2 linked regions of the Homo sapiens genome follow. The protein of the gene in region 2 interacts with the protein of the main gene of each other region in a biochemical or structural test. Each region holds a gene or a part of one and is shown on either strand. Other genes may lie near its edges.

Evidence for each region.
Region 1: the proteins of SLC4A1AP (region 2) and MFHAS1 form a complex in vitro, tested with the Homo sapiens proteins (one large-scale study listed by BioGRID and IntAct).

The regions. Positions count from the first base shown.
Region 1 is NC_000008.11:8,792,631-8,796,130, reverse strand, and holds part of MFHAS1 (malignant fibrous histiocytoma-amplified sequence 1), read left to right. Parts: intron 1-3,500. UniProt on the Homo sapiens protein: Probable GTP-binding protein. Functions in innate immunity and more specifically the inflammatory response as a regulator of the Toll-like receptor TLR2 and TLR4 signaling pathways.
Region 2 is NC_000002.12:27,673,889-27,677,388, forward strand, and holds part of SLC4A1AP (kanadaptin), read left to right. Parts: intron 1-1,643; coding exon 1,644-1,804; intron 1,805-3,406; coding exon 3,407-3,476; intron 3,477-3,500.

The sequences.
Region 1 (3,500 bases), on a different chromosome or scaffold from region 2:
TGGTTTGGGTTTTATGTATGTGTGTTTTTCGTTTTGTTTTGTTTGTATTAAGAACCAAAGAGGCCGCTTTTAAGCTGAGATGAAATGCCTGTTACTTCAAATCCTGAAAAGCAGCAGCCACAGATCTTCTTGGGTCAGATCTCATGATCTGGGTGATGTCAGCACCATGATTTCTCCAGCATAGTATTCATATCCATGCAGCAAACTCGACTCTTTCTTCCTAGCTGGCCACATGGAATTTTTTAATGAAAAAATTATGTATGAATCTAAGCCTGTTTTTAGGGAGCTTGGAAAGTGCGCCTTTGGGAATTGTGACCTGTCATCTCCTCTTGGGAAACTTGCTGTCCGGCTGCATTCCAGGCAGTGTGACAGGCATCCATCTCACCCCTCACATGGCAGCTTCCCTGCCTTTGGTGTGCTCCCTGCAAAGCGAGGGTTCCCAGTGGCATTCTTACTCATTAGCTGCTGCAGTAGAAGTAGAGGGCACTCGGCTCAGTGCCCCGTTTCTCCAAACTGGGAAACTCATTACATAGAACATCCCTAATCTATCCTTGCTGGAAAATATCACCGAACACCCAAGGGAAACTGTTATCTAATGCTCTTGTATTCAGAGTACTATTTAACTATCATGTGCATAGTTTAATTTATCACTGACCCTAAGACATTGTGAATCTTGAAGTGCTTCTTAAATATTAAAATAGGATTACAGAATAACTGTTAAAAGTAATTGCACAATTACTTTTGCACCAACCGAATATTAACCTGAATATCCCCTGTCCTGAACATATCAAACAACGGAAATTTTATTGTTTCTCTTTTAATTTCTTTGAAATTGTACATATTGGTCCCTTTCTTTCAGATACACCTGGGTGAGGATGGATAAGGGGATATTATATGTTTTCTTTTTCTTCTGTCTCTTTTTTTTAATACCCCGCAAGTTCTTAAAGCTCAAGGGGATATTACAGAACCAGCAAGGTATGAAACAGAGGAAACAAAAATTCAATATACTTTGCATTGGCGTAAACTTTCCAGAGCCAAGAGAGACATGAACCTATTGTTTTGCCATAGCCAAGTGCCGTCGAATAGGTGCGATAGAGGTAGGAGTTAAAATATCCATTTGCGCTAGAAACCTTCCTGGCACCAAGCCAGCTTTATCAGTGTTTTCCCATGGGCTTCTTGTACTGCCGCAGAAAGACCACGTTTATACCAACCTGAAAAAAATGTTATCAGCCTCTCTCTCGACAGCGTATTGAACCTGAACGAACAAGCAGCCTAAAGTCATGGGTAAGCGGCGGTACATGGCGCCAGACATCCAAATGCCGAGGAAGCCTCTTTAGGCATTGAACCACTTTTGACCTAGCTATCAGAATCATTTTATTTTGAAAGAGGTTAAAAAAAAAGTCTCATGAAATGGATGACAGCTTTGCAATATAATTCTCAACTCTAAATGAAGGAATGTTCTCTAAGTAGGGAAGTTTCATATTCCTGGCAAGACGTTTCTTGGAAAATTACCATATTTTAGTGCAGCTGCAAGGGGTAAATGATCTCTTGTGTGACTTTATAGAAAAGCACACGTAGATGTGAAGCCTGTGCTCGAGCTGCCCAGTGTTCCCCCACCTTCACCGCCTTAAGCACCCACAGTTTACATCCATGAACACATGGACAAAAACAAACTCATGTGGAGGCCGGGCCAGGCTCCGGGGAAGGTCCCATTCATGGGTGGTTGACAGTGGATTGGAAGCGGGAGATTTGGGGGGATCGGTTAGGATAGCTGGCAAAGAATCTGTGCTTAAGTCAACACAGCTTGGGCCTGAGCCTGAGACTTGGGGTCTCAGCAGGCACTAGACATTGGAAGTCCGGGGCTATTGCACTGGCTTTCAACTCCAGCCGAGGTAACTTAAGCAGGTCACCATAGAGGTCAGGCTTTTTTTTTTCTTTTTTGACAAAGGGTCTCACTCTGTCACCCAGGCTGGAGTGCAGTGGTGCGATCTCAGCTCATTGCAAACTCCACCTCCAGGGTTCAAGTGATTCTTCTGCCTCAGCCTCCTAAGTAGCTAGGACTACAGGCGCACACAACCACACCTAGCTAATTTTTTGTATTTTTTGGTAGAGACGGGGTTTCATCATGTTGGCTGGGCTGGTCTCGAACTCCTGACCTCAAGTGATCCATCTGCCTCAGCCTCCGAAAATGCTGGGATTACAGGCATGAGCCACCGTGCCCAGCCAAGGTCAGGCTTTCTTAATCAGACCTGTTAAGTTAGAATTTCTCAGGGAAGGGACCAGGCATGAGTCACTAAAAAACAGAAGAAGCCACCCAGATGAGTCTAACGTGTGTACACGACTTTCTGATGGTTCAGTTCCAGTCCATGCCTCTAAGGGTGGGTTCCCTGGCCAGTGGGGCCTTAGGACTGCTCTGTGGTCAATACCTGCTCTGCAGCACAAAGGCAAAACTGTCCATGCTGTCTGCTCTCAGCCTCAGCACAGTCCCTCCCACTCTCAGGTAAGGTGAACATATCACTCACTGTTCAAATCAGGAGAGGATTGAGAGTGATGGGACGGCTGTCAGTCATGTTGGGATGATGGGTGCCCTAGAGAAAGCTCCCAGGTAGACCAGAATAATTACCCTAGGTGATTGCTGGCTTTTGTGGGGCTTAGGTGGCTGATCTGGATCTCATGATGGTTTTTAAAAAGACATTCCAAGCTCTTCTTTGGCTGGTTTAGCCCTCTCCTTTATTGGTCAAATCAGAGACTTGTCATTTAACTGCCTGTCTTTGACTAATGGTGCTGCAATGCTTTCTTTATAAAGAAGAAACTGTAGATGACTGTTACCTGATTGGCCTTTTTTAAATGAATTCCAAGCTTTTCTATTTCTTATTTTAAACAATTTGTAGACATTTTATTCCCCCATGGGGAGAGACAGAGAATAAGAAGTAGGTAGTGATATTTTTTTTTTTGTTTTAACAACATGATTTACTCTTATAACTTGTCTCAGTGGATTGGTGGTTGAGGTCTCCACCAGCGTTTCATTGGGAAGAGGTTTCAGGAACAGGATGAAATGCCTCCCCTTCTGCACCTCACCCTCCAGGGAGAAACAGGAGCTGAGTGGCTTCTTCTCCCCCTTGCTGATTATCAGATAGAAATGTGAGTCATTTCCATGCTTTGAATATCTTGAGATGATTTTCAAGGATATCTGCATTTAAGATGAGGTGAACATTCACCTAGTAGCAAATTTGCCTGGGTCGCTCTGAAAAATTCTGGCCTCCTCAAGGATACAGATTGTGACAGATACATTTTTAAAAGCTTTATTGATGTATAATTTCCATACCAGAAAATTCACCTGTGCAATGATTACTAACGTATTTGCAGAGTTGTATTTATACAACCATCACCACAATCTAATTTTAGAACGTTCCTTCACCCCAAAAAGAAATCTCCTGCCTATTTGCAGTTAACTTGTGTCTTATCCAACACCTAGTTCATGCAGTCAGTAAGTTTTTTTT
Region 2 (3,500 bases):
AACAGGAGTGAAGGAACAACTGCATGAACCAGAACCTCAAGTTCTGAAACCATAACTTAGTACTACCAAAGTAGACTCAGCATCACCAGGACATATACAAGTTGTGTGTGTGTGTGTGTGTGTGTGTGTGTGTGTGTGTGTGTCTGTGAGTGAGTCTGTCTCACGAGTGCATTTTTAAACTTTGCAGACAGATTCTTACCCTGTGCTGAAAAGCTGATTGCTTACAGCCCTGAACTTAACAGTCTCTCACTTTAATAACCTCATTGTAAAGAGAGCCTCTTTGCCCCATCTCTAAATATAAATATGAGGGAAAGAGTCTTACTGATTTGGCTTTGGTCCTATGACTATCCCTAAACCAGATAAAATGGGGGAGGAATTTTCTAGGGGAAAGAGGTACTTTTATCAGAACAAAGGGAGTAGAATGTTGTAGGGTGAACAAAAAAGTAATAGCTGTCATAGTTTCTTATTGATGGACTCTTTACATATTCACTGTTATAAATACTATTGCATTGATATTTATAGAATAAATTCCTAGAAGTGGAATTGCTGGATCAATGCATTTTTAATGGCAGATATTGTAGGCTTGACCATCAAAAAGGTTGTATCAATGTACATTCCCACCAATTATTAATCTTTTTATGTTTTTCTAGTCTAATAGATGAGAAGTATCTAATTTTTAAATTTGTACTTTATTTTTTTTTAAAGTAACATATTTAAAAATATTTATTGTATTTTTCTGTGAACTGCTTTCATTATCCTTTTTCAAATTTTCTTTTGGGTTATTGTCCTTTTTCTCATTTTTCATTTTCCTTTTTTCCTCATTGATTTTTTTTTTTTTTTGAGATAGAGTTTCACTCTTGTCACCCAGGCTGGAGTGCAGTGGCGCTTTCTCGGCTCACTGCAACCTCTATCTCCCAGGTTCAAGCAATTCTCCTGCCTTAGCCTCCTGAGTAGCTGGGATTACAGGCACCCGCCACTATGCCCATCTAATTTTTGTATTTTTAGTAGAGACGGGGTTTCACCATGTTGGTGAGGCTGGTCTTGACCTCAGGCGATCCATCCCCCTTCAGCCTCCCAAAGTGCTGGGATTACCATGCCTGGCCATCCTCATTGATTTTTAAAAGCCGTTTGCTCATTAAATAAATTAACTATTTGCTTTAATGAAAAATTATTTAATAAGAAATTGTGGGAAAATATACATAACAGAAAAGTGTACCATTTTAAGCATTTTAAGAGTATCACTCAGTGGCATTAAGTACATTCACAATATTATGGAACCATCAACACTGTTCATTTTGGAACTTTTTTATCATTCCATACTGAAATTGGTATCTGTTAAACACTAACTTCATTCTCCCTCCTTCCCAGCCTCTGGCAACCACCATTCTACTTTTCTGTCTCTATGAATTTGACTACTTTAGGTATCTCACATGATGCAGTAAGTGTCCTTTTATATATGGCTTATTTCACTTAGTATAATGTCTTCAAGGTTTAGCCCTTTGTTTTTATACGTAGTTTGGCAGCTTGTAGAACCTCTCTTTCAGTAGTTGATGGTGACATTTTAAGCTCCTTGCCTACTTGCCTTCTTTCTTTTTCTTTTCTTTTTTAAAAACTTATTTATTCATCATTTTATCTACCTCTAGTATCTCGGAAAAGGAAAGCCAAGAACTGGGAAGATGAAGACTTTTATGATAGTGATGATGACACATTTCTTGATAGGACTGGCCTGATTGAGAAGAAGCGTCTGAACAGAATGAAGAAGGCTGGCAAGATTGATGAGAAGCCAGAGACCTTTGAATCATTGGCAAGTTTTATTTATGGAAGTAGCTGTGGTATTTAATAGTTTAATTTTTAATAACATAATGTATTATTTAAATATGTTTTATGATAATTTTTAAAGTAGTAGCATTGAAATCTGATACTGAAGTATAACTTTTGTGGTCTGTTAATTTAATGGTAACAGACAACTAGTCTTATCCAAGTTGTTTGAAAAAAATATGGCTTGCTGCTAGATCCTTTCCTTCAGGATATTGATCCATTAATTAACATTCTTTGGATATGATATTACCTCTCTCAAAAGGAAAGGAAAAAGTTCCAAGTTAGGGCGTTCTGAGGTGAAATTGACTTTAGCCTTCTGGCAGTCAAGAGAAGTCAAAGGAATTTTGAAGAATGTAGTATGGTAATATGTAGTCTGAAACAGTATGTTCTTCAGGAAATTATCACAAGGTGACGTGTTAATGGGTAGGTAACAGACAATAATAGGCAGGTAATAGGCTACCTATTAGACTAGAAAAAAACATAAGATTAATAATGCAGAGCTTGACCAGAATATGGAGAAGTAGACTCTCAATTGGTGGGAATGTACAATACAACCTTTTAAGTGATCAATCCTACGACATCTGTCAGTATTAAAAATGCATTGATTCAGCAATTGCACTTCAAGGAATTTGTTACAGGTATTAATTTATAGTAGGATTCAGAGCTTAAAACATTACCCAACATCTATCCTTTTGATTTATGTGAAAACAAATGCCTTGAGCTCTTTCTTCTGAGTAAAATGAAGTCCGAGTTATTCATTCTGTTTAATTCTGTGTTTTTTAATTCAGAAATAAATTAAATTTGGATTTAACACATAAAAAGTGTTAACTCCTGGCTGGGCATGGTGGCTCATGCCTGTAATCCCAGCACATTGGGAGGCTGAGGCCGGTGGATCACCTGAGGTCAGGAGTTCGAGACCCACCTGACCAATGTGGTGAAACCCCACCTCTACTAAAAAAAAAAAAATACAAAAATTAGACAGGCGTGGTGGTGTGTGCCTGTAGTCCTAGCTACTCTGGAGGCTGAGACAGGAGAATTGCTTGAATGCAGGAAGCAGAGGTTGCAGTGAGTCGAGATCACGCCATTGCACTGCAGCCTGGGTGACAGTGCGAGACTCCATCTCAAAAAAAAAAAAAAAAAACTATTAACTCTGGCCAGGTGTGGTGGCTCACACCTGTAATCCTAGCACTTTGAGAGGCTGAGGCAGGCTGATCATGAGGTCAGGAGATTGAGACCATCCTGGCCAACATGGTGAAACCCTGTCTCTACTAAAAATACAAAAAGTAGCTGGGTGTGGTGGTGCACACCTGTAGTCCCAGCTACTTGGGAGGCTGAGGCAGGAGAATCGCTTGAACCCGGGAGTCGGAGGTGGCAGAGAGCCGAGATTGCACCACTGCACTCTACCCTGGCAACAGAATGAGGCTCTATCTCAAAACAAAAAAAAAAGTGTTAACTCCATAAGTAGCAGTTTAACTGGACTTTTGAATTAATCTTCTTAAAACTTCTAGTAAGAATAATTAAAACAGGAGGATGAAAAACAGTTTGAAAGAAGAAAAACTTTGTAACCCTGTTGATTTGGGTGTTACAGGTTGCAAAATTAAATGATGCTGAAAGGGAACTTTCTGAAATTTCTGAGAGATTGAAAGCCTCAAGCCAAGGTAAGTTTTTCATCAAATATTTAT